Linked DNA regions of Homo sapiens: regions 2, 3, 4 and 5 are each linked to region 1. The links come from fine-mapping of genetic effects on gene expression. A gene starts in region 1. Each other region holds a variant in brackets. All regions are shown on one strand. Distances are from middle to middle. Region 1 holds the start of ST6GALNAC3 (ST6 N-acetylgalactosaminide alpha-2,6-sialyltransferase 3). Region 2 overlaps LOC124904200. Region 3 overlaps ST6GALNAC3 (ST6 N-acetylgalactosaminide alpha-2,6-sialyltransferase 3). Region 4 holds the start of LOC124904200. Region 5 holds the start of LOC101927342 (a long non-coding RNA gene).

What was found. PIP is the estimated chance that this variant, and not a neighbour inherited with it, causes the effect. A credible set is the group of variants that fine-mapping cannot tell apart.
Region 2: its variant is the best candidate, but not a certain one, in a credible set for the expression of ST6GALNAC3 in whole blood (INTERVAL, PIP 0.88).
Region 3: its variant is the best candidate, but not a certain one, in a credible set for the expression of ST6GALNAC3 in whole blood (TOPMed, PIP 0.88).
Region 4: its variant is the best candidate, but not a certain one, in a credible set for the expression of ST6GALNAC3 in whole blood (INTERVAL, PIP 0.70).
Region 5: its variant is the best candidate, but not a certain one, in a credible set for the expression of ST6GALNAC3 in whole blood (GTEx, PIP 0.76).

Annotation. Positions count from the first base shown.
Region 1 is chr1:76,072,154-76,077,153 of GRCh38, reverse strand. It overlaps ST6GALNAC3 (ST6 N-acetylgalactosaminide alpha-2,6-sialyltransferase 3), which reads right to left and starts at 2,408. Exons shown (of 5, transcript NM_152996.4): 1 at 2,270-2,408. The coding sequence starts at 2,287. RefSeq lists a silencer at 2,408-2,607.
Region 2 is chr1:76,050,042-76,056,214 of GRCh38, reverse strand. It overlaps LOC124904200, which reads right to left. Exons shown (of 5, transcript XR_007066173.1): 3 at 611-702; 4 at 2-106. Among named protein-coding and RNA genes, the nearest start is that of ST6GALNAC3, 22 kb to the left of the region's middle. RefSeq lists an enhancer at 2,964-3,464. The variant A/C (reference allele first, on the strand shown) is at 3,768.
Region 3 is chr1:76,102,845-76,107,844 of GRCh38, reverse strand. All of the region lies in intron 1 of ST6GALNAC3 (ST6 N-acetylgalactosaminide alpha-2,6-sialyltransferase 3), which reads right to left. Among named protein-coding and RNA genes, the nearest start is that of ST6GALNAC3, 31 kb to the right of the region's middle. The variant G/A (reference allele first, on the strand shown) is at 2,348.
Region 4 is chr1:76,037,705-76,043,265 of GRCh38, reverse strand. It overlaps LOC124904200, which reads right to left and starts at 1,902. Exons shown (of 5, transcript XR_007066173.1): 1 at 1,583-1,902; 2 at 1,368-1,481. The variant C/T (reference allele first, on the strand shown) is at 2,078.
Region 5 is chr1:76,008,536-76,014,708 of GRCh38, reverse strand. LOC101927342 (a long non-coding RNA gene) reads right to left here and starts at 3,385. Exons shown (of 3, transcript NR_125939.1): 1 at 3,311-3,385; 2 at 1,379-1,449. The variant A/G (reference allele first, on the strand shown) is at 3,134.

The DNA.
Region 1 (5,000 bases):
ATCATATGCAAGAAGCCAGGCTTGCACTGAACTCAGGTCTCTGGACTGAAACCTGTATTCTGCACTGCTCCATGTGTAGCTTTTCAAAGACAACAAAGAAAAAAGATCCAGCCCAGACTGTCTAGACCATGACCAGAGAAGGGGATTGCTCAAAGGTGCTCAAAGGTGGTTGGAACTGAATGGTATTAGGCCATCTTAAAAGTCATCACCTGGGAAAGTACTGGAACAGCAGTAAAGTATATGGAAGGTTGACATATCTGGGTCTAAATCCAGGATCACTCTGTCATTAACCCTGTGTGGCCTTGGGCAAATCTCTTAAACTAGGGAGCGTCAACTTTCTCATCTGTAAAATGGGGTTTAAAACAATGATACTTATCTTTCAGGGTTTTATGTAAAGATTAAAGAATAAAAAACATTTTGTATTTTATAAAAAATAATAGTTATAAGAAACAGACTGAGGATATAGTAAGGATCAACCAAACTGCACTTATTATTATATGTTAGAGGAAAAAAATGGCACATATTAAATGCCTGTGCCACAAAGTATTTTTCATACCCTATCTTATTTCATTCCCACAGCAACCTTGTGAAGCAGGTGCCACTACTTTGATCTTATATTGAAGAAACTAAGGCCCAGAGACATTTAAGTAACTTGTCCAACATCACAGAGGTAGCAGTGGGCAGAGCCAGCATCCAGACATATCTTTCTGAGTCTAAAGCCCACATTAGTTTCAGTGGAGGGAAGATAAGGTGGACAGATATGTCCCAAATGTCTGAAAGCAGTGTGAAGTGCTAGAAGAGAAAGATTGGACCAGATTCATGTGTAGTTTGGGATGTGCATTAAAGATGTTTACCACATGTATAGGACAAGGCAGGGGAGAAACCAAAACAGAAAAAGATGGCCAGCAATAAATATCATGCTCCTCAATGTCCCTTTCAGCAAATAACACAATGAATAGTAAAGATGACTCATATTCATATTTCAGTCCTTGTGCTAAGAGCCTCCCGGTCAAATACCCCATACTGTAATACTGATGTATTATTTCCTCATGTCCTGGAAAATGTTCTGAAACAAAAAGAGGAAGTTCAGAAAGCTCACAGGAAACTTCTGATCTCCTTTACGCAAAGAAGGGGAAACAACTTCTACGAGGTTAGTCTCTTATTTTCATCATTGACACCAGGCACGTTAGAAGACGATTCAGGTAACCAGAACACAGTAGATGACTTAATATCATCTTATAGAGAAATAAATGCTACTTCACAATAACACAACAACAACGAATTGTTTCCTGGTATTTTCCATCGTCACACAGTTCCCCCAGGCTTGGACAACTAGGTCTCTGCATTCTCCAGTCAAGGCCCAGGAAACTTTCATGCTGTTCATGTTTTTGATTCATGCATCCAGGTTATGTTCTTGTAGAAAGGTAGTGCAAAAAAAAAAACGAGGGCAGGGGAGGCCTCTACCAGTGGGATGGAAAGTTCTTTTTAAGTGAGGCCCTCACACCAAGTTCTCCCACCTGAGGCCACAAGTCTGTGAACCCAGAAAGATGCTCAGGTGAGGCTAAGAATCCGGTCTTGGAGAAAGAAAACTCAACAAAGAAGGGATGGCTGAGCGCACTCTGGCAGAGCATAAAATCATTTTGTCTATTCAAATTTATGAGCATAAAGAGAGTGAGAGGTTCTCTACTAACATATACATCCTCGTGTGAACTTTTCCAAAGTAGAGCTAAGGGCAAACAGAGCTAGCAGATCTCATAGAAAACTCATTCCTAAGGGACTACCTGTAAACTCAGAAGTTTCTGTCTTCACATGATCAAATGCACAGTAGAGCCCACCTCCGCTCACTCTTCCCTCCATTTAAAGCGCTATGCCCCTCACCACCAGCAACTCACGCCTAGCCACTCCACCCCTCCCCGTGGCCCCTGAAAGGCCTCAGGCTCCACAGAGCCGCGGGACCCGCGGGAACACCCCTCCTCTCCCTACCATCCCCATTATTCGGCACACAGCCCTGCTCTCCCCTGGAGCCAACAGTCTGCAGCTCCTTCAATGCAGGCGCGAGCAGGAGGCAGGAATGGTGGGAAAAGAAGCTGTGCCAGCTGCATGTTTCAGAATCTCCCTCCATATGCATTTGCCAAAGGAACAAAAAGAAAATCAATGCCAGGAAAAGACAACTGAGATGAGGATGCGGTGGGACCGCGGCTGACTCCGTGCCTCTGAGCAGCAAGGGGCTGGCCAACCACGCGTCCGAGCCACAGATCCAAGTCGTTACCTTCAGGATGCAGGCCATGGCGCTCCGCCGGCCCTCCTGCCACCGAGCAGCGGGCGCGCCTGGGTCAGGGGCAGTCCTGGGGGCAGGCTGGAGGCTGGTACCACGGCAGGACCTCTCCAGCCCACATTCCCGCAGATCCAAATAAGGGGACCGCGGTGTAAGCTGCGCCGCCACAGACCCCGCCCCCCGAGCCGCGGCCCCGCCCCCGTCCCCATCCACTGGCCCGCGGCCCGCGCGGCCCCGCCCCCGGGTCACGTGCCGTCCTGGGCGCCGGCGCCGGCGGCTCCTCAGTGCCTGCTACTTCTTTCTCTTGTTTTCTTCTGTGAACCTTTCGCGGCTCGACGTGCGCAGAGTGCGCTCTGCAGCAGGCGGGGACCTGGGTCCCGCGGGGGGCAGAGTACGGCCTTTTCTTCTCGGTTCCGTCTCCTCTCACACATCAGAGAACTCCTTTTTACAGACGTTTCACACTTTGTCAAAGTTGAGTGGGTTTGGCATCGCCCTTCTGGAGACTTTGGGCACATCAAAGGGCTTTTCAAAAGTAGCAACGAAGTTCTCCCTGGGCTGTTCAAGGATTGAGCCTTCACTCTGTGATGGGCTTATCTAAAATTAATAATTTACCGCTAATAAGTGAGCACAAATATCAACGAAAGAAAGACGTCATGAACCTTACACTCTGTATGGTATATTTTGTGTGTGTGTACATATTTTACATATACATGTATGTGTGTATAATATATAAATTATTGCCTTTTCCTGGTACAAGCTTGTTTATGAAATTGTATATGCATGATATACAGTATACAGATACAGGATGCACACATGTGTATATTGTATTATATATGTACATGTTGATTGTACAGTATATGTTTATAAACTGTGTATGTGTACATGATAGGACTTTGCTCTTCCCTGCTCCAAGCAAGAGCCGGCTAAGAGAAGCAGTTATTTCTACAAGGAGAGTAAACGCATTGCAGAAGGGAGAGAGCATTCCGTGTACACACACAGATTTTTACCACTTGGTCTGTCAGAAAAATTTTAAAAGCGGCCCCCAAATATCTACCCAAAAGAAGTTTCACTTGCTAGAAGCTCCGTCTAGTTTGCCTCCATGGAATCAGGAAAAGCACTGTGGGCTGGTGGTGTCATGAGATTGGCTCACAAACCACAAGGCAGAATCCAGGCTTTCAAGGAATTTGGTATTTTCTTGATGAGAACATGCAGAATTCTTAGAGAGCAGGAGTAACCACAGGAAGGAGGTTGCAGAAGCTGAGCCTGTGGATGAACTGCCTGTCCCATGGGAAGCTCCTGTCTTCAGTCTCCCTGGAATACCACACCCTGCTCTTCGACTTCTTCCTCCCGCCCCTCCCTCCTCTGCCTTACAGATCCGGTGTGTTTTTAGTAAGAATTCTTTGTTTGGGACTATATACTTTAAACCGCTGCTTTAGCTCATGGTCCTTCATAGGCCAGGAAAATTCAGTATTTCATTCATTTACTCATCCCTTGATTGATTCCACAAACTTTTTTATTGAGCCACTACTAAATGGAAGAATAAACTTTATTCACCTTCCACTAAGTGGAGGAAAAATCTTTATTGAAGACCTTTCAGGGATAGGAGAATGACTTTCAGAATATCTAACATCAAGGTGGGCTCACAGTTAAGTGAGAAAGACAAGAATAAGAGATACATGATACTATAACATGGAAAGGGCCTTAGCCAAATTGGAAGCAAAGATCTCAGGAAGGAGAAAGAGAAACACCTGACCGTCCCCCAGCCCGACACCCGTAAAGGGTCTGTGCTGAGGAATATTAGTAAAAAAGGAAGGCCTCTTGCGGTTAAGAGGAAGGCCTCCGTCTCCTGCATGTCCCTGGCAGAACAGCAGAGCAAAGGGGTGAGGGTGGGCAGAGCACATCGTTCTCTCTAGAAAGTCTGTACATCTGGAAAGAGAAACAGCAGGCCCTAGTGAACAGCCCTGCTAAGTACTTCCCTGCTGGGTGTCCTTGATCAAGTTTCTTAACCTCTCTTTAATCCTTACCTTATCTAATATTATCTATCCTCAAGAGAATTAAATGAGATAATAATGTTTGCAAATTGCATTTACCTCAATTTCTGGCACTATGAGCACTTTTTATATGATAGCTCTTTATGTAAAGAAAAAAATCTTCCGCTAAAGACAGACTTGTGGGAGAAGATGAATAGGATAATTGCCATCAGCCTTGGGTGTCTCAGGAGGATGAACACCAACGGAGCAAACTTTTAACATGTTATGACTTGGGTATGCCGTGATGAGGCCTTTACTAATTCCCTCAATCTACTTGGATATGGCTTTCTCAATTACATTTCTATCCACCCATGTCCATACTTCCCAAGGTGTTATTTTTTTTATTAACATCCAAAAGTTATGTCAAACAGCTAGAAATAAAGGCACATTTATAACAATCTAAAAACAAACTCAAGTTCTAGAATAAATCTGGACTGGAAGATTTACAAAACAGTATTAACAATCACTGTTTTAGATGGACCACTCGATGTCTGGGGGTGGGGGGGAAGCTTTTGGATGGAAATAAAAACAGGTTTTGAACCTACCAGGGAATGGAGATAGCCAGATTTGTTGGGGCTGGGAGGATAGGAGTGTGTTGCCAGGATTTTTTTGTTTTAAAACTGGCCAAACTACAGGAACAGCTTAGTCAAATCCATAGGTGTAGCATAATTTTCCAGCTCTAACATTATGTGACT
Region 2 (6,173 bases), 22 kb after region 1:
CCTGTTAGTCAGGAATTCAGGCTGGGCTTCGCTGGTTGGGCTCCTTCTGCTCCACTCGGGGCTGGGCTCATTCACTCCCTTGCTTTCAGCTGGTGGCTCCAATGAGCTGAGTAAGATGGAGAGGGCCAAGAAATCTTCACTTTCATGTTTAATTCATTGATATGCCATTTCCCTCTATATGTAGACAGCATGAGCTTCTCCACCACATAGTGGTCTCCAGTTAGTTATGCTTCTAACACGATGACTGGCCTCCAAAAGGGAGCTCTCCAAGTAGTGAAAGCAAAAGTTGGGAGTCTCATAAGGCCAGTCTTGGAAGTGATGCAGTGTCATTTCTGCCACATTCTGTCAATCAAAGTCAGTCACAGGCAGCTCAGAATCAGGGGAAGGGATCATAAACTCCACCTCTTGATGGAGGAGTGGCAAGATCACATTACAAAAGAGCTATTGGGAGAGGGTCTATTGTTGTGGTCTTCTCCAGAAACACAATTTACCACAGAAGTTTAACATAAAAATTAATCTAAGGCCAATGAAACCTCCAGGGACCTGGCAGAGGCAAACCCCAAACCACTTCTGTAGTTCAGGCCTCATGGGGGTCCCATGGTAAACAAACCTTGTTGAAAATGTGCTTGTGATCAAAAATTACAAACGACATAAGGAAACAGGACACAGATACAGCAGAGAGCAGAACTGGCACACCATCACCTGGAATAATGGAAGAAAATGAAAGAGATTTAGAAATAAACATGATTAACATGTCCAAAGAGCTAAAGGTAGAAAATATTAAAAAACACATAGGCATGCTTGAAAAGGATGAAATTGAAATCATAGTGACAAAAAGTATACTCATTGAAATAGAAATCCCAACACAGGTGACAAAGAATTAATGAAATGTAAGATAGACCTAGGGAAATTATTTTAGCACAAGTGCAGCACAAATAAAAGAGATATTAAAAACATGAAATATCTAAGGGATATTAAGATACTAAAAGGTTAAAATAAGAGTCTAATTCATACATCTAATAGGAATTCCTAAAGGAAGGAATGGAGAGATTGGAGAACCAATATCCAAAGAGAGTGTCTGAAAGCTTTCCACAATTAAAGAAAGAAGTCATTATATTTAGTAATAAATCATAGCAAAATTTAAGCAAAATAAATAAAAATACAAATACACAACAAGACACATCTTACTGAAAATGCACAACATCCAAAACAAGAAGTAAACAAAGCTCCGGGGAGAAGAAAATAAGACACGGTAACAATGGAACTGACAGTCTTCTCAGCAATAATAGGTAGATAATAGAATAATGTATTTTAAATGTTGAGGGAAAATAGCTATCAATCTAGAAATCTTTGAGTATGCAACTGTTGTTAATAATTAAGGCTAAATAAACCCATGTTGTAAAAAAGACAGAAACCATCCGATCAGAATTTTGTTATTTAACTTTACTGCAACATGCTTTATATACAATAAAGTACAGCCATTTTAAGAACACTGTTTGATCGCACTCTTGTAACTACCACCACAATCAAGATACAGAACATTTCTGTCACCACGAAAGGTTTCCTTTATTCCTTCCCCAGTCAATTTCCCCACCCCACCCTTGGCCCCAAGTAACCACTGCTCTGCTTTCTGTCACTATAAATTAGATTTATTTTTTCAAGAGTCTTTTAAAAAATGCTTTTAGACTGCATGTAATCTTTGTGTCTGGCTTCCTTCACTCTGCTTAATGTTTTTTGAGATTCATCCATGTTATGTGTATCACTAGTTTATTCCATTGCACAGAAAAGAAAACTGATGCTTCAATATTAATTCCAGACAAAAGAAAACTTAATCAGAAAGTACTGTTAGGGCTAAAGAGGGGCTGTATATAAGAAAATTACACCAAGAGAGTAAAATAAGCATGAATGCACATGTTTCTGTCACTAAAACGACAAAGCATTTAAAGTAAATCTGATAAAATTACAAAGACAGTCCAAGTGCAGTGGCTCATGCCTATCATCCCAGCACTTTGGGAGGTCAAGGCAAGAGGATTGCTTGAGCCCTGGAGTTTGAGACCAGCCTGGGAAACATAGTGAGACCCTGTCTCTACAAGAAATTTTTTAAAAATTAGCCAGGCATGGTGGTGCATGCCTGAGTACCAGGTACTTGGGAGGCTGAGATGGGAGGATGCTTGAGCCCAGGAGGCTGAAGCTGCAGTGAGCTACGACAGCCACTACACTCCAGTCTGGGTGACAGAGTGAGATATTGTCTCAAAAAAATAAAAAAAGAAGATAGGAAATTTAAAATAAGAATGGAGGCTTCCCTGATAAAGTCATCAGTTAGTTGACTCTTACACTGTTATATGCTTAATCATGCTAGCAAATCAAAGCATAATCATACTGGCTCCACTTGAAACAATATTAGTGGAAAGGGTATTGATATGAAGGAGTTAACACTATTTGTCATTTTCTAGGCCGTTGGTAACCATGCTTTTGCGGAAGATTTAAAAACAGTGGGTTGCTTTCCCTTTACCATAAAATAAAGACCAAAATGACCAAAAAAAAAAAAAAAATAGACAGCATTAACTGAGCATTTGTCGGGCAATATGTTAAACACTGTACCTGCATTCTCTCTTCACTTCTTGCATCAAGTTTTTCCTCAGTTTCATGGAAGGAAAACTGAGGCTCACAAGGGGTGGCTACTGAAAAGCAACACCAGGACTTCAACCTGTGTCTAACTCTAGAATCAACTTCTAATCCTACTAGACCATACATATTATGTCAACCCAACAACAGCAGTTTACAAATTTCCACCATTAACTTCCCCTTCTGACAGCAGAACACATTCCTGACCTGAATCCCTACTAAGCCACTGGCCAGTTCATTCTTATTCAAACTGTGGAGCAAACACTCAGCTGGATTATTTCTCACGTAAAACATTCCATCTGCAGAGAAGCAAGACTGGCTTATGTTTTTAAAAACAGTCTGCCTGGGGCTGGCTGTGTGATGGAAGTGAGAGGCGGCGGGGTACCCTGGCCGTGGCTGACAATGAAATGCTGGAGAACAGAACTGGGGAATGAGTTGCAGACACAGCACATCAAAGCCACAGTGAGTGGCCTGGAAACAGGCAGCTCAGCGTCACCCAGCTCCTGCTGCTGCCAGAGGAAGGATGCTGCAACGGTCATCACTTAACCACTCTCTGACTGCCAACAACCACAATAACTAACACCTTGCACTGAATTATCATGGACCCTTGTTTCCTGTGACCTCAATCTTACCTTACCCCCTAGATCATCTTCCAAAAACAAGGTATATATTTTTTAAAGGAAGACACACTGGAGTTCTCATATGGACTTTAGAAAGCTGTAAAAACTAGACCCTGAATGAATCTACATGTTTGTATGTTACCTCACCTAATCATAGGTTTATGAAATCAGACCTTTCCATAACGTGAATTATGTCTTACACAAAAGAATAGAAAAGAATAACTCATTGCTATTCTGCAGCCAGCTTGTAATTTTCTGCAGAAAGATTATGAGAAGATATAACATTGTAGGGACTTACATAAAACACAAACCTAAAAGATAAACATTACCTTAGCTTTTGCCAAACACTGTGTATATTGGTCAGCTAGTATGAGGCCTGGCATGTGGTTGGTTCTAAATACATGTTTTGTGATAACAATGAGTAATTATGACACTTTAGAAGGCTTGAAGCAAAACTCTCTGTTGAATTAAGTGAAATGAGTGCTATACTGTGTTTAGATGAGCAAAATAAAGGGACAAATG[A/C]GCAATTGTTAAATGAATTTAATCAACCTGGATCATAAACTACCTAGGTTCAAATTCCCATTCTTCTGTTGGACCTTGGGCATGTTAACTGTACTTGTCTGTGCCTTACTCTGCTCTGTAAAATGAGAATTATAAGGCTATCTGCTGGGGTTGTCGTGAGGATTACATTAAATGACACATGTAGGCATGTGTTGTGGTGCCGAGCATGCAGCGAGCACTTGGCAAATGTTGGCTCATGACTTTATTATTATTTCTCTAGGCCACTTTTTCAGTTGTTTTACCTTTATGAATAAAATGTAACCATAGCAACTTCAAATAAACTTTTTTTTTTTTTAATAAGAGACCTCTAAACACTTAAAACCCCAAAGCTGACTTTCTTCCCGTGGTTAATGTGATGGTTAGTGTGGCCCAGTGTTTCACCAAATATTAACTTTTATTCTTCCCTCTCCTCACCCAAGACACTTGTCCTTAATGAAAACAGAAAATTGCTTTCCTAATTAACATTTTCAGAAATATGGCCTGATTATGCACCATTTTTAGTCAAAATAAATAGATATGTCAGAAATGTTCTCATAGGCAGTGGGCTAAAAGCAGCTTTGATTTCAGTGTCAGAAGGACTAGACAGTAGGTTTTTGAGGGAAAGATTTGTTGGTCCACAATGGCTGTAGCTTAGGTGCTTGGCGCAAAGCCTGGCATATGCTAAGCACCCAATAAGAGAATATGTAAACTTCTAGTTGATTCCTCTCTGTCATAGCAAGTGGCTCTCTATGACTTCAACCTCCAAAGATCATGTGGTGTCATGAAAAGAACCTAAATCAAACACACCTGGCTTTAAATCTCCAAACTTTTTCTAGATCTATGGTCTTCAGCAAGATAATCTTTCTAAACTAAGCCACAGTTTTCCATCTGTAGATGGGACAACCTTATAGGATTTCAGTAAGAGTTAGTGATAACAATGGTAGCTTGATAGGGATAGCATTGAATCAGTAAGTTACTTTGGGCACTGACTTTCTTCAAAGAATTAGAAAAAACTACTTTAAACTTCATATGGAACCAAAAAAGAGCCTGCACAGCCAAGACAATCCTAACCAAAAAGAACAAAGCTGGAGGCATTATGCTACCTGACTTCAAACCATACTACAAGGCTATAGCAACCAAAACAGCTATATAGACCGATGGAACAGAATAGAGGCCTCAGAAATAACACCACACATCTACAACCATCTGATCTTTGACAAACCTGACAAAAACAAGCAATGGGTACAGGAGTCCCTATTTAATAAATAGTATTGGGAAAACTGGCTAGCCATATGCAGAAAACTGAAGCCGGACCCCTTCCTTATACCTTATACAAAAATTAACTCAAGATGGATTAAAGACTTAAACATAAGACCTAAAACCTAAAAACCCTAAATAAAACCTAAGCAATACCATTCAGGACATGCACAAAGACTTCAGGACTAAAACACCAAAAGCAATGGCAACAAAAGCCAAAATTCACAAATGGGATCTAATTAAACTAAAGAGCTCCTGCACAGCAAAAGAAACTATCATCAGAGTGAACAGGCAACCTACAGAATGGGAGAAAATTTTTGCAATCTATCCATCTGACAAAGGGATAATATACAGAATCTACAAATAATTTAAACAAGTTTACAAGAAAAAAAAAAACCAACAACCCCATCAAAATGTGGGCAAAGGATATGAACAGAAACTTCTCGAAAGAAGACATTTATTCAGGCAACAAACATATGAAAAAAAGATCATCATCACTGGTCATTAGAGAAATGCAAATCAAAACCACAATGAGATACCATCTCATGCCAGTTAGAATGGCGATCATTAAAAAGTCAGCAAACAACAGGTGCTGGAGAGGATGTGGAGAAATAGAAGCACTTTTACACTGTTGGTGGAAGTATAAATTAGTTCAACCATTGTAGAAGTATGACAATTCCTCAAGAATCTAGAACCAGAAATACCATTTGACCCAGCAATCCCATTACTGGGTATATAACCAAAGGATTATAAATCATGCTGCTATAAAGACACATGCACACATTATGTTTATTGCAGCACTGCTCACAATAGCAAAGACTTGGAACCAACCAAAATGCCCATCAATGATAGACTGGATTAAGAAAATGTGGCACATACACACCATGGAATACTATGCAGCCATTAAAAAGGATGAGTTCATGTCCTTTGGAGGGACATGGATGAAGCTGGAAACCATCATTCTCAGCAAACTAACACAGAAACAGAAAACCAAACACCGCATATTCTCACTTATAAGTGGGAGTTGAACAATGAGAACACATGGACACAGGGAGAGGAACATCACACACCAGGGTCTGTCGGTGGGTGGGGGCTTGCGGGGAGGGATAGAATTAGAAGAAATACCTAATG
Region 3 (5,000 bases), 31 kb before region 1:
AAAATAAAGTACATTGGGTGTAGAGAGAGGGAGAGGACAGAAAAAAGAATGTAGATCTGCCATAGAAGCTTCCATTCTTCTCCACATTGCATCTTCCTATGAGCCCACACACATGGGTCGCCCATAGTGTTCACCCGCAGGGCTGTATTTGAACAGGAGGTGGGCTGGCGGGTGGGGCAAGAGAAAAGAGGGCTCAATCGCAAAAAGCTCACACTGATTAATAAGGAAGGAACTGGAAATGCAAGTAGGAAGAAAAAAAGCCCCTGTGTACTATGAATAATAAGACAAAGATAATACCACATACAAGAATATTTATAAGGCAAGGAGATAATCATGGTACCAAAGAAAGTAGAAAATTGGTTAAGAATAGAACACAACTTTGACAATCAGACCAATCTGGGTTTGAGTCTTGGCCATACCTTCTAAAATTGTGAGCTTAGGCAAGTTATTTAACTCTTCAGAGCCACCATTCCTTCTCAGTGAAATGAGGATAAAAAGAGGACAGATCTCATTGGATGCCTGATTATTATAAAAAAAAAAAAAAAAAGCAAAAGTGTGTTTAAAGAATAACATGTCTGATTAATACTTAATATGCAATAACTGCTATTATTCTCATCAACCATTGTCTTCATTGGATTAGGCAGGGAAGAAGTTAGTCAGGAAAGAGGGGCTGAGTTTGCTCCAGACTTGAAGAAATGTTTGCAGTACAGCTGTAAACCCACAATGTAAGTTCTCTCCATGACCAACCCAACCCCACCCAGTTGGTGAAGACCCTGAATGAAGCCTGTGTTTCTTTCCATAAACTCATGACTGAACAGCATGTGGTAATTACCCTTCTGGCTCACAGGAATGGAAAAATAGAAGTTAATTTCTCAGCAAGATAGGAAGAATTTGTCTTCAGACTCTATGTACAAGTCTTGAGCAACGGGAAATGTATCCATGTTATTACCTCAGAGTAAATGCTGCCATGCACACTTTTCCCATGACAATGGCAGTGAGCCTAGGGAAGGAAAGATACTTCAGAAATGACACTTTTATTTATTTATATACTTCAGCAAGTTGTTTTCAATAATTGTTCTGTGTCCTGGGTTTTTAGTTGTTATTGTTGCAAAATTCACTCTCTTCCATCCAAAACTTAATGTCCCTCATGTTTAGATTATGGATTTTTCCGTGTGCTTAATTCAAAAAGAAAAGAAAAGTATGTTGTTGCTGATGATCCACCTCACCCCACCAAGTGACATGACTGCTTCAGCATTTGAGGAGCATGGGTGCACCATCCAATTCCTACACAAAGCATTGGGGGCCATCAAATGGAAAACACAATTATCCCAAGCACAAGGCACAGCACTGAAGTCAAAGCACAGCCTTAGACTGCCTCAGCGAGCTCAAAGTCCCAGCAGCATTGAGTAGGAGGGAAAATGGCAAAGAGTTTCCAAAGTTATCTTGTGGATTTATCAAAACTCTCTTCTGTCAGCCCCTCTTGCACCAACCAACATGGTTCAGCTCATTTTTCCAAGGGATGAGGGCTAGAGAGGAAACAAAGAAAGACTGCCCTGCAAGACAAGGATCTGTTATAACAACAACATTTTTAGTCTTACAAATAAATCAACTAATTAAAAGAAAAAATTTCCCATTGGATTTCATTATCATGACAATAATAACAACAACAAAAATATAAGATTTATTGACCACTCATTATGTTCAAGGCCCTATGCCAGGTGTTTTCATATACATATGAATTCTAAAAGACAAGCATTCTTGTTGTCATTTGACAGAGAAGAAAATAGACCCAGAGAGTTTAAGAAAAGTGCCTAATGTCACAGTGATGATAAATAGCAGAGCAAATACCTGCACACAGTTTGGTACGACTCCAAAGCTTATACTCTTTCCATGTTACCTGACAATTCTATTTTCTCCATCATGTGAAGAATTGTCTCTCATAAAAAAAGCTAATCGTTCCAGTTTAAAAAAAAGAGTAAGAAAATTATTTGAAGTGGTATTTGTACAATATTTTTTTAAATGTAATAGCCAGACGGTAATAGCACTAGCAATCCAGGATGTATTTTATAGGGCTATTAATATATGCCTCGAGTGGTCAAAGGCTTTGCCACTCACTTGAGGCAAATAGTAATGGCCAATAAAACTTGCCTTGTCATGTCTTAATACCACATTGTATCATCACACTTGTAATGAAATGCTCTTAAACTTCAGTGTTATCAGAAAGGAAGAAAAAGTGGTAATTAAATGAGCTAGCAAAATGAGGAGGAAGTGTGGAAAAGTGGAGAGAGCCCTGAGTTGAGACCTTGGCCTAACTCTCCCATGCACCTCTGTGACCTAATCTCAGGAT[G/A]TCAGCATCTCCATCTGTAATCTGTGGTTCATTACGACAAGCCAAGACTTCCTCCAGCTCCCACAGTCTGTGGTTCTTCAGTGAATTCACATTCATTTAACAATAGCTCACTGAAATCATCTAGGGGCACACCTGTGCTAGAAGCTCAGGACAGCAGTAACCAAGGCAGAAGTCTTTGTCTCTGATGCTGGCCATTAGAGGTAAGTGGATGGCTGTGAGTTGAGATATTGCCTTGCTTTAAAACTTTCTCTTCTTATAGGTTGTGAATATTTCCATGCAAATTGTGACAAAATCTTGATAAGAGTTGCATTTGAGTGATGGGGGAATATTTGGACTATTCCCTCCACTTCTGTAATTTTTGGAATTTTTAATCATAAAAATGTAAGGTGGATAGATGAGAAAAGCTTCAGAGAGACTACTGCTTCTGATAATGACTCACTAGATATGCCAGATAAAACTTTTGATATGATTTGGCTGTTTCCCCACCAAATCTCATCTTGAATTCCCACGTGTTGTGGGAGGGACCCAGTGGGAGGTAACTGAATCATGGAGGTAGGTCTTTCCCGTGTTGTTTTCATGATAGTGAATAAGTCTCACAAGATCTGATGGTTTTAAAAAGGGGACTTTGCCTGCCCAAGCTCTCTTCTCTTGTCTGCCGCAGGTGAGGCATGCCTTTCACCTTCCACCACGATTGTAAGGCCTCCCCAGCCCTGTGGAACTGTAAGTCCAATAAACCTTTTTCTTTTGTAAATTGCCCAGTCTCAGGTATGTCTTTATCAGTAGTGTGAAAACAGACTAATACACCTTCCCATTGAAGATAAGTAAAAGAGAGAAAAAGCATTTATTAAATGCTTTAAAACACCTCAAATCTAAAAAAAAAAAAAAAAGCGTCAGGCCAGGATCAAGGGAAGGAAGAAGTCTGGACAAAAGAAGCTGGCATTCTGGGCCTATTTCTCCCCTAACGACATATTGAGGAGCCAAGGAAATAAAGATTTGTGTTTAAGTCCTGCTAAGGATGGGGGAACTGACCAGGTGTATCATTTGTTTTGGACTGGGCTCCTCAAAGAGCTGTGTCCTAGCAGGAAGGGAGAATAGAGAACTAAGAGGCCCTTGCAGAGGTCTATGGATCATCTTCAAGCCATCTCAATATCTGAAACTAAAATCAGATGCTTCCAGAATTCTAATGCCCCAAGTGCTTGCAGAAGCAAATGTAAATCCCTTCTGGGGTTGAGAAACCTCAATCTTGACCTCAAATTATATCTGTAAAAAATTGTACGAATATACTGTCTCACACACAATTAAAAATAACCAAGCACATAAGGAGATAAGAAGACATAAACAAAACCAGCAGAAATAACAGAAATAGAAACCCACCCACAAGCCTCCAGATACTAGAATTATCTGAAACAGACTTTTTGTAAAAAGTCTTCCTATTTATAGAAAGAGAAAATTATAAAGTTGAGAATTTCAACGTACAATGGTATAGCAGGCTAAAAGGTGGCCCCAAAAAAGATATGTCCACATTTTAATCTCTGAGACTTGTGAATATTACCTTATGTAGCAAAGGAGCAAATAATACATTATATGGAAAAAGATGTGACTGAATTAAGGGTGCTGAGAGGAGGACTTACCTTAAATTATCAAGATGAACCCTGAATGCAATCACATGTATTCTTATAAGAGATTGGCAGAAGAAATTTTAAGACAGACACAGAGAGGAGAAGGCCATGTGAAATGGAGGGACAGAGAGATAGCTACAAGCAAAGGAAGGCCAACAGCCACTAGAAACTAAAAGAGGCAAGGGGTGGATTCTTCCCTAGAGCCTTTGGAGGGAGTGTGGCTGCTGATACCTTGACCTCCAGCCTCCTGAACAGTGAGAGAATACATTTCTGTTGTCTAGGCTACCCAGTCTCTAGTAATTTGCTACGCCATCCTATGGAACTCATAAAAATGAGAAACTCAGAAACAGAGAGAGTCGAATGAAAATTTTAGGCCTAAAAATACATTAACTAAAATTAATAACTTAATAAAGGAAGAACAGACACAGCAGAAGCAGGAATTAGAAGCCAGAAGAAAATAACTAGAATAAAGTATAGAAAGACAAAAGGATGGAAAATACAGGATAAGACACTACAGGATACAGTGAGGAGGTATAACACATATGTAACTATAGCCCATGGAAATGGAAAAGAAGAGACTGAATGGGGAAAAGCAATATTTGACAAGATGAATGATGCCTGAGAACTTTCCAAAACTGAAGAAAGATATCAGGCCTCAGAAGGAGCCAAGACAAAGAATCCTAGAAACCCCAAGCAGGAAATGTAAAAAGAAAACTTCACCCAGGCCAATTACAATAAAACTGCTAAAACCACAAAGAAAAAAAAAAAAAAACTAAAAATCAGCATAAGGGTGAAAAAGAAACAAAAATTGGATTTTTATCTAACTTATCAACAGAAATAAAGAAAGCCAGAAGTAAATAAAATATCTTTTAAGTATTGAAAGAACATAACAGATAGCCTAGAATTTTATGCCCAGAGGAAATATCCCTAAGAGTGATAGTAAAATAAAGCACTTCAAACAAAAAACAAAAGAATTTGTTACCAACAGACCTACAATAAAGGAAATAGTGAATGATGTTCTTCAGGCAAAAAGA
Region 4 (5,561 bases), 34 kb after region 1:
AGTAGCTGGGATTACAGGTGTATGCCAGTACACCTGGCTAATTTTTGTATTTTTAGTAGAGACGGGGTTTCACCATGTTGCAGGCTGGTCTTGAACTCCTGACCTCAAGTGATCAGACCATCTCGGCCTCTCAAAGTGCTGGGATTACAGGCATGAGCCACTGTGCCTGGCCATTTTCCTTCCTTTCCATTCCCCAAGAATGAACTGGCCAAATTAAAAAAATAAATAAAGCAGACTTCAAGTAGGTACTTCAGATTAACTTTGAACATCAGCTATCTTTTTTGAGTGACAGCTAGGTATGTGCCAAATGCTATAGATAGACACATCCAGACAGCCTGAAGGAAACTTGCCTGATCCAACAGTTTGCATATACATCTCTTTTCACATTCAAATGTTCTTAAAAATAAATGGATTTTAAAATGATGCCAATATACCTGAAAATACCAGTTAATTTTAGACAGAAATTTAAAAGACTGCCTCAATTTGATTGAGGCAAGTGTCAAAAATAAGAAAACACCCAGAAAATCTAGTAGTGAGGATCTGGGCAGATACACTGTAAAATCATCTCAATTGTTTCTAGTGCCAGATTTAGATGCCTGCTAACAACTCAGGTCTTTATAAGGAGTCTCCAAAACTGCAAAAGTTTCCAATAAAAGGAAACTTCTGATGCCCATGTGAGTTTTCCATCAATTTCTTCTATGCTGTGATAAGCTTCTGCAAGGCTCAGTTATAGGCACTGTTCTATTACACCCTTTCCCAAGTCTCAGGAGTTTTTCAAAATTTATTTGAAAATACACATGGTCTTCTCACTCTGCTTTAGCATCAGCTCCAAGACAGTTCTGCTTTCATCCTTAAAGAACTTCAACGTGTATTTCTTTCAAATAAAGGCTTGCTGTCTTTCAGAATTCCAAAGTGTTTTTGATGTAAATAGGACGAAATGTCTTTGGACATCAAGTAATGAAACCTGTAGATTTTATCAATGTCCATGGCAATTGGCTGTTTAAAAGCTGTTACCTTGTTTACTTCTGAACAAATTAGAAAAGAGATGCCTGGATGGGGAACCCAGGTGAAATTACTAGATTAGGTTCCAATGCATTAAGAGAGACTTTCCATGACTTCAGAGCCTGGAATATGATTTTAAGCCATTTTACTGGATAATTCCTATGATTCATTTTGCATTCAACCACTGTGTCTGCTTTTTATTTCTCCAGCACACATCTTCCCAAAACTAAATCCTATGTCTTCAATAGCAGACAGGGGTAAGAGAAACATACACCATGTGGCCTTCATGTGAGTCACCTGTGTGACAGGTCATTAAGGCATTTAGGGAGATGAGTGGCAAATCAGGAGTCAAAGAAAGAGGTTACCTGGTATCTGGAAGCGCTTCTCGCTCTTCCACTTCCTCAGCTGCAATTCATTCTCTTCTTTTCTTTTACCTTTTCCTCTCCCTTTTCTTCTTCTTTTTCTCCCCTTTTCTGTCTCTGAAACATGGAAAAACACTTTTGAAAAGCATGTTACTCAGTTAAAAGAACAGATAATACATGGATCAGTTACAGGGTTTGCAGTCTGCTCTCTCCCTCACCTCTCACGTGTACATCCCCCATCTACTAAAAACCAAAAGCCAAAACAAATAAACACAAAACAAAACAAAAACCCTTCTTGGGAAGAGCAGCTCTTCCTCTCTCCCCTCTCTTCCCAACCCCACCCCTATCAACTCCCAGGGAGGTTGGGAGCTGCCTTTGGGTCACTAGATTTCACAAATGAAGATCAAGGTACTTGTTAGAAATAATTAAAATAATGTGCAGAATTAAAGAAGACCTTGGAGGGGAGGGGAGGCCCTGTAAGTCAAGAGCCACCCTCCCGGCCAGGCGCAGTGGCTCACGCCTGTACTCCCAGCACTTTGGGAGGCAGAGGCGGGTGGATCACCTGAGGTCAGGAGTTCAAGATCAGCCTGGCCAGCATGGCGAAACCTCGTCTTACTAAAATTACAAAAAAAAAAAAAGTGAACCCAGGAGTAGTGGCAGGCGCCTGTAATCCTGGCTACTTGGGAGGCTGAGGCAGGAGAATTTCTTGAACC[C/T]GGGAGGAGGAGGTTGCAGTGAGCCAAGATCGCGTGATTGTACTCAAGCTTGGGTGTCAAGAGCAAAACTCCGTCTCAAAAAAAAAAAAAAAAAAAAAAAAACCGCCCTCCCCCACTCCTGACTGACTTCAAAACTCAGTTTGAAGTTGAGAGTTGAATCCAAGGAGTGGAGAGGGGAACTCGGGGAGTGGAGACATGCAGGCTCTATGGGCACTGGAAGCACGTCTGACACATAGGAGACATTTAGTAAATATTATTGAATTAATTAAAAACAACAGGAGTGGAGACAAAAATCTATGTGGGAGCTACAAATTAGATCTCCTTGTTTATTTTCTAAGAGTCCAATAAAGATTTGAATTGCTGTTAATTACTTTTGCTTGATGGATTGGAGTTCTTTCTGTGACACTCTGTGAGAGGAGAGAGAAAGAAATCAACTAGGCAGATAGGGCAAGGGTCCTAAGTAGAATTCCCTTCTAACAAAAAAGCAGCTTCTAACACAGAAAGGGGCCTCCTGTGTGACATACAGACATACAGTGGGCCCCAGTAAGCACAGTCCTCTCCCTTCTTGGAAATACTCAGACAAGGAGGTTTGCACAGCAGGGAGTGCCTGCAGCAGCACTGATAAGACGAGCTACCCTGGACCAGGAGCGTCCACTGTAGAGGGTCCCGCCTCCTGGCCTTTTTCACACATGCGCAGTGGGAAGAGATAGGCAACATGGAGTAACTCAGACTAAGGAGCCCGCATGAGCACTAGAAAAAGTGGGGTGGGAACTGTCAGAAATTTGAGCCTTATGTAAATGAAACACCCTCCCCACCAGCTTGTCTATAAAAACCCTTGCATTTCATTGTAAAATGGCAACCCATCTTTCTGGGACCCCTCTCTGCTCCCGAGAGCTTTCTTCCTTTCGCTTATTAAACTTCTGCTCTAACCTCACCTTTGGAGTGTCCGCATCCTTGATTTCCTCTGCCGTGATAACAAGAACTTCCAGTAATACCCAGACAATGAGGCTGGTTTCAACTCTTTGCCCTGGCTTTTATTCAAGTTACATACACACATTGTCATCTGCCACGCTGGGAAATTGATATCACTTAGTAAACCACAAAGCTGGTGTTAGAATGGGGTTTGTGACTCTTGTGGATGAGCATCCAATGACAAGATACATTTGCTTTTTACATATAAATATGTCTCCCTGGCCGGGCGCGGAGGCTCACGCCTGTAATCCCAGCACTTTGGGAGGCCGAGGCTGGTGGATTGCCTGAGGTCAGGAGTTCATGTGTGGCCAACACGGTGAGGCCCCTTCTCTACTAAAAATACAAAAAAATTAGCCGGGTGTGGTGACGTGCGCCTGTAATCCAGCTACTCGGGAGGCTGAGGCAGGGGAATTGCTTGAGCCAGGGAAGTGGAGGTTGCAGTGAGCCGAGATTGTACCACTGCACTCCAGCCTGAGCGACAGAGCAAGACTCCGTCTCAAAGAAAAAAAAAAAAAAAGTCTCCCCAAGAAAACCATAGAATGCTTACCATTTTAACATGTTATTTTAGAGAGGTGATAGTGCCAAATCCCTTATTACACAGGTACTAAGTTATAGACTTCCAGATGGAATGTAAGGAAATACAAAATATTTTTAATGAAGCAGTAGAATGAAAGTAAAAATGGGTGAAATGTATTTATACTTTGAAGAATAGCAGTTGAACATCTCTGGGTGCCAGACATTGTGCTGGGTGCAATGTAGCATTAGGAAATGTGGTTAGAGCATCAGAAAATCAGAAATTCTGATTTACATTAGGAGTGTGGTAAATGCATTTCTATCCATATGAGAATATAAGTTGAAATCATATAATTCCCTCCTTCTGGGAATGTTAACCTCCCTCTTTGGGGAATCTCGTCTCTCCCTGATTCTAGACATGCGGAGGTTCTAAAGGGGGCTTTACACGATAGGGCCCCGTTGTTTTGGCCACAATTGATGAGTCCAGAGATGGGCATCTAACCCAAACCAGCTAGAGATGTTGCTGAAGGTTTTGCTTCTCATTATGTAAAGAAGCTTGTCTGGAAAAAAAAAGCGGGGAATGGGGAGGTGGTGTGCAAAAGAAAAGGAAAGAAAAAGAGGGAGAGAAAGAGAGGCCTGAGAGAACAAGAGTCCCTAGCTCCATGGGCCTGTGCTCAGCCACACCCCTGCTTTCTCCTGCAGACAACTGAACTGATAAATTTCCATTTTTTACTAAACTAGCTTGAGTTACTTTTTTTTGTCACTAGTATTCAAAATGTTTCTAACTAATATACTTAATATGTTTAAAGTGGTATATATAAATAAGCAAGGGGCTTTGCTAAGCCAAAGAATTATTTTATGAGCCTTAAAAAAATTGACTTTTGAAACCAAAGCCTGTGTTTAAAATCCCAAGTTTATTGCTCACTAGTGGAGTAATCTTGGGCTACTGCCCTTGAACTGTGGTTTCAATACTACCTATAAAAAGCGATAAATACATACATTTATAGATACACATATATGTATATAACTTTTTGTCCTAAGGATCAAATGAGATAATATATATTAAACACTGTAAGTATAGTTCATTCTGTGAAAGGTGGTCATTGTTTTATACCCACTCTGATGATCCTGAATTAAAGGAAACAAAAGTTACAGACACGCTGTTGCTATACTGAAAGAATGTGGGCTGGAATGATTGAGGGAGTTTAAGAACATTCCTCAGTCAGATGGGGAGAGAATTATAGCCATGTTAAGTGAGCTCTTGGTAATTATTCAGAGCAAAGTCAGCAGAATTATTTTGCCACAGATAATACAGATAAGGGACCTGATAGAGTAAGTAGATTACCTCCTTTAGAGCTAATGCGAAACTATTTGGTAACATGAGAAAGAAAGTGGAAGAAATAGCACTTCTAGAGGTAACTAATGCTTTTCTGAAGATTCCTGGTTTTTTCCAGGGATCTCAGCATATCAACTGGACAACTTGATTAGACTCTATGTAGATACTGATGTCTGCGCATAGTCAGTCACTAGAGAAGGTGCACTAGTGGATCACTAGAGAATTATAAAAAGAACCTTAACTATTAATTTATGCAAAGGATTCTGGTAAGTTGTCTTAGATGAAGAATATGGTGCTAAAATTGCATCATTTGCAATCCTTGGTTGTGTGAACACAGTGTCACACTTTCTGGATTGATGATCTGCTTTTCAAAATTTGGCCAGTGGTTCAGCTATTTGAAGAAGTTATAAAGGCATCATCACAATGTTTAACGAAAGTGTAAAAGATCATCTGGGGCATCTCAGATTAATGCCAATTGAAAATCATAAGGGTGATCTGAAACACAACTTTAAAAATGCTAATTGGAACTTCCAGATGTCAAATACTCCACAGGAGATGGAAAATAAACAAGTAGACCTTCCTCCCCTCCACCCATTTTTCCTCATCCCTGCCATGTGAAATAACAAACAGCTTCAAATCACCTCCAACCAAAACGCAGCTGTT
Region 5 (6,173 bases), 63 kb after region 1:
CAGCATACTTGTTACAAATCTCAAATATCTTAAGATAAGCTTGTATGGTATGAGTATATAGGGATCCTGTCAAGAAAACAAAAACCGCATGAAGCATTTTAACATAAAATCTACTATAGGGACTTGGTTTTCCAGATGGTGGAGGGCTGAATAGACAACAGGGCTCGCCGGGGTAACTCTGATGTACAACAGCAGGAGCAGCTGCTGTTCAGGGAAGAGGTTGGAATAATCACAGCCCAGAAGCTCTGAGAAAGAGCTGGGGCTCAGACCTCTGAAGAGGAGCATGACCTAGCTGTTGCCATTACTTCTGAGAACATACCAACAGGCTGGCTCTCAGGTTTTCAAAAGAGGCTGGAGACTGGAACCAACTGCTGCTGTCAGGCCAAGGTCACTGTTGGGATGATGCTGAGAGGAACAACAAAAAAACAAGAAGAAAGCCCCTTCTCCCACTAGATGCTAGTCTCTCTCTAGCATCCCTATTTGCAGACTGATGTGGTTTGGCTCTGTGTCCCCACCCAAATTTCATCTTGTAGTTCCCATAATTCCCACCTGTTGTGGGAGATGATTGAATCATGCGGCTGGGTCTTTTCCATGCTGTTCTTGTGATAGTGAATGGGTCTCACAAGATCTGATGGTTTTAGAAACAGGAGTTTCCCTGCACAAGCTCTCTGCCTGCTGCCATCCACGTAAGATGTGACTTGCTCCCCCTTGCCTTCTGCCATGACCTTTAGGCCTCCCCAGCCATGTGGAACAGTAAGTCCAATAAACCTCTTTCTTTCATAAATTGCCCCGTCTTGGGTATATCTTTATCAGCAGCATGCAGACAGACTGATACATAGACCCTTACAGGAAGCCAGTGGGCAAAAGAGAAAGAGTCCTAGGCCAGTCCCATGTAGTACTGTACAGAAAGGAAGGTTTGCAGCTGAAAGGTAAAAAACTGCTCAGCATAAGGCTGAGCCTTAAGCCTGTCACCGGGATGCTAGTGGCTGCCTCCCCAACTAGCAGACAGGCACCCATGTTTGTTTTCTTCCCACTATTGCATCTCAATGCCTGGAAAAGAGGCCAGAACTTAGTAGGCACTTACTAAATATTTGTTGAACCAATTCCGAAGAAACGGAATCTAATCATAGATATCTCTGATTGCAAAGCCAATGATCTTAATTCTTTTCACTGATGCTACAACACCCACTGCCTTTGAGAAGGAATCAACCAAAGAGAATTGCTTCCTACTTTACAAGTTTGCCTGTAAGGGGCCTTGGCAGCCCATTTTATTAATGTCTCCAGTGCTATGAGAGTAAACCAGCAAGAACTGATACAACATTGGCAGTGACTAATGACTTCAGTCTGCCTCTTTTCACAACACAGAAAGGAATTTTACCTGATGACCAAGTAGACATAAGATCTTTACAAACTGACACAGTCCAGATTTTATTCTGTGCTTAACTGGAACTGCAAAAACAAAGTGATAACTGTTACAAGAATCTCAGGAACATTTCAGACATGATTGTTTTCCAAAAGAGAACAATATATGTATATTACTCTTTATTAAAACCCATAAAAACTCAAATGACACCAGTGGCAAATAAGAAGTTGTAAATAAGTCATGGCCTTCTTAAGCCCATGGATTTGCAGCTAGCTCCTGACAATGTGTCTCTAACCTCCTTGCTGGATTCAGTCACACATCACTGCACAATAGGCATTCTCTGCTCTTTAAAACCCTGAGATGCCAGTGCCATTCTCATTTGCATTTTTAAAAAGAGAAAGAAAAAGAGGAAGTTTTGGAGATTAAAAAAACAGGTACATTGTACACAACACTATGACAATCCAATGGGGGTACATATGTTCTAGCTGTAAGCTGGTAGGCATTTAGACTTTTGCTACCAGCCCCACTGGGCTCAAATAACCTTTCTCAATGGTGTCAGATGCATAGCAGAGTACCAAGTCCCATTCCCACAAGGGGAATAAGCAGACCACTGACATTATGGCCACCTTTCACCCAGCACAGAAATTTCAAGCTGCCTTACTTTTAGCAGCAGCTGGGCTTGTGTTCTATAAGACTGAGTAAAACTCAGCAGAACTTCTTTGGAAACTTGTGCCTGGCTCATTAAGACGTATTCTGATATCTTACACATTACTTTGATATTTAAGGCCACGTAAGGATGTTGTGGATTCCTGTGGCTCCTTTTGGCAAAAGTTGAGTGTTAGTAGAGTTTTGCTGTTGAATGTCATGTACCAAACCATTGTGTTTTCTGGAAAGACAAGCTGAGTTTTGCTTGATGCTTAGTTTGGAGAGGATAAAGTTTCTCCCTTTTCCCTCACTCCTGGGGTTGTCTGAGTATACTCCCTGGATTTCTGATCCAGGCAAATGGGGCACTGGGTTATTTTATATTCAGTCACACTCACCTGCGGTGGATTTTATGACACATATAGTATTAAAGCCAGAATTTCACTTGGAGAAATGAAGTGTTGGCATTGGAGATGGAAAAGCTTAGGTGGAGATTATTTTTGCAACCTATGGAGTAATGTTAGACCAACATATGGCTTCAGATGTATGGTGTCTCCTCCTTGGGCCCCCCTCTGTGGGGAAGGCCTTAGGGCACACAGTTCAGAACCAGGCTGCCTGAGCAAAGCTGACTTGTTAGATCAGAATGGCTAATGAACATGAGAACCACTGAGCCATCCAAAGGCAATTTTTATCATTAGTCTCCCACTCCCGCAACAGAAATTCTTTCTCTTTCTCTTTTGTCACCTCTTTATCATTGGTCTATAAGTCTGTTTCTGTTTCTTTTATTAATTTTTTTTTTGAGACAGAGTCTTGGACTGTCACCCAGGCTGGAGTGCAGTGGTACTATCTCGGCTCACCGCAAACTCCTCTTCCAAGGTTCAAGCAATTCTCCTGCCTCAGCCTCCTGAGTAGCTGGGATTACATGCACCATCATGCCTGGCTAATTTTCGTATTTTTAGTAGAGACAGGGTTTCATCATGTTGGCCAGGCTGGTCTCGAACTCCTGACCTCCCAAAGTGCTGGGATTACAGGCACGAGCCACCTTGCCCGGCCTGTTTCTTTTTCTTTTTTTTTTTCCTTGCTTTGTTCTCCTATGTCAGAATCTTTGCTGTTTCATGCTTACCCCTT[A/G]GTGTTTTCGGAATTAAAAGGTTATGGACCCCTAATGTAAAACAATCTTTAAATTGTGGTCGGGTTTTCTATAGAGCATTGGTGATTACAAGTGATAAAGACATTTTATAATGGTTTTATCATGCTAATTCATGGGACTGATGCTTTTATCTCTTTTATATAGAGTTGTAATCTTACCACCAAGAGCATTTTTCCCTGTACGTCAATAGTTCTCAAAGTGCAGTCTAAGGAACCATAGAGGTCATGGAGATCCTTTCAGGGAGTCTGTGAGGTCAGCATCTAAAAATAGTAATACTAATATGTTATTGATCTTTTTTACCCTCATTCTTGTTTTAAAAAAAATTTAGCCAAGTTAAATTTAAAAGAGTTTAATTGAGAAAGAACAATTCGTGAATCAGGCAGTGTCCCAACCTAGAGTAGGCTTGGAGACTCCAGCATAGCCACATGGAGGAAGATGAATGGATGGAAAAAGGAAAGTGACCTACAGAAAACGGACATGAGGTGCAGAAACAGCTGAGTTGGTTACAACTCAGCATTTGCCTCATTTGGACAGTTGGCCACATTTGATTGGCCAAAACTCAGTGATTGGCACAACAGTAGGCCACAGTCTGTTTACAATTCCATTTAGGTGATAGTTCACGACGTACAGAGAAACCTTTAGGCTGAACTTAAAATATATAAGGAGGCAGCTTTAGTCTAAACTTGATTTAAAATTATCTTACCTGTGTACAGTGAAGTTTTTCAGAAGTTACATGATATGCTATATCACAATAGACTGAATGCAGAAGCAGAAATGAGAATCCAGCTGTCTTCTGATATTAAAGAAATTAGCAAAACTGTAAAGCAATACCATTATGTTCACTAATGTTTTTGTTTTAAAAAATAGTTTTCACAAAATTATGTTATTTCTGTTAACATATAATTGGTTTATTAAGTTTATTATTGTTGGTTTTAAATGAATCAACCAATATGTTAAAAATATATATTTATCAGTAGATCTAATCCACATAAAAAAAAACTCTCTGGGATCTTCAATAATATTTGAGTATAGTCTTGGAACCAAGAAATTTGAGAACCACAGTGTTAGATTATAGCCTGACCAGTCAAGTATCAGCCTTCACTTCAGTGTAACTTCTGTAAAGTGCATACCTTCTAGGAGAATTTTAATAGGTCAAAATAAGCCCTGATAATTTGAACTCCAAACTGTATTGGGAATCTAACCACTGTTAACCACCCTAATCACATATACTCTAATCAACTTAGACTGAAGTTACTTTCCCCAAATCTGTTTTGTTGCATCCACTTGTATCCCACTATAATCCATTCTGAATATTGCAATCAGGACAACCTTTTTAAAATGAACTTCCTTATCATGTGCATTGCTTGTCCAAACCCTCCATTGGTTTCCCACCATACTAAAAATATACTATTGTATGACCTACAAGATCCCATATGATCCCGTTCTGTTGGTCTCAACCTCCTCTCTGAGCATTCCTGTTGGTCACATTGGCCTTCTTGCTCTTCCACTCATGTTATTCCCTCTGCCTAGAGTGCTCCTTCCTCAGATATTTTCATGGCTTCATTTACCCCTTTGTCATCTCTGAGTTCTCACAAAATAGTGCTCTACCTTCATCCCACCCATCCTCTTTATCCTCTTATCCTTATTTCTCCATTGCCATTTCACTGCCTGACATTATATTCCATATTATTTGTGTATTATCAGTCTCTCCCACTAGAGTGAAAGCTCCATGAGGGCAGAGACTTCGACAGTCCTACTTATCACAGTATATCCCAGTGCCCAGAACTGTGCTTGGTACTGAGTAGATACTCAGTAAATATTTATTGTGTAAGTGAGGCCTAAATGCCTAAAACTTTGTAGTCGTGTGCTAACTTAACATGTGCTAAAGGCCTAAAACTTTGTAGTCATGTGCTAACTTAACATGTGCTATGTACCTCTTAGCTCTATACTAGGTACCAGAATATGGAGATGAATAAAACACAGCCCAAAGCCTATACAGTCAACCAGAATGAAATCAGTCTTAGAAGAGAGGTACAGGTAAGGTGAGAGAGGTACTAAAGATAAAAGGATTTATTTCAGTGGAGAGGTTCACAGAAAGCTTTGTGATAGAGGGAATTACTGAAAATGTTTAGTGATATTGATTTCAGTGTTATCTTATCTGGGCTTTGCAAAATCTTTTCACTTTGTTGTAGTCTTAGCTGTAATCATTCAAGGTTTTTTGTCTTAAAACAATCAAAAGATTCTTTGGTTCATTCCTGCTATCAAGAGTCAGTTCTTTCAATAGGTGACAGAAGCAAAGTAACCAATTTTTGCTGGAAAAAAAGAAAAAATAAGAACAAGGACAAGAAGAAGAAAAGGACATGGTGAGCGGTGACTACTACAGTTCCCTGATGTTGAGGTTTTTAGGCCTTGGGCCCCAGACACTCAGATGGTTTTTATCTTGTAAACAAACCAAAAAAGAATAACTAAATTTCAGAAGATCTGTCTAGTATCAGGAAGACCCACAAAATCCCATCAACATTTTATAATAGACTTATAGAAAGCATCAGATCAATGTGCTATGAAGATTCCCATGAACATAAAAAGAAATGAAGATGAAGTATGTCAATGCACATTGCCCACCTCCACGCTGTTGCTGGAATAAGAACCAAGGATTCGAAAGATTAACAAGAGAAGGACCTAGAATCAGAGTGAGAGAAAAAGGAAATGAGGGTGGGAAGAGAGAGGGAGGAAGGCGGAGAATGAAGCCTTTACTGAAACTCCCCAGTGTTTGGAAAAAATATAAATATATAAATTTTTGCAATAAATAGCCTGAAATACCACAGAAATTCATGTCACCGCTAAATATTAGATGACATTTTGGTACTATTTGCCTCAGAACAGAGGTGAGCTGAGTCTAATGTCTCAGTGGTATTTCATAATGGAGAGATTTCAGTGGTGCCCTTTTCCCCAATTTGTATAGATTTTCTTGTACTGCATACAAACCTCCCAAGCTAGTCACAATCCTGATCTTTATCTCTA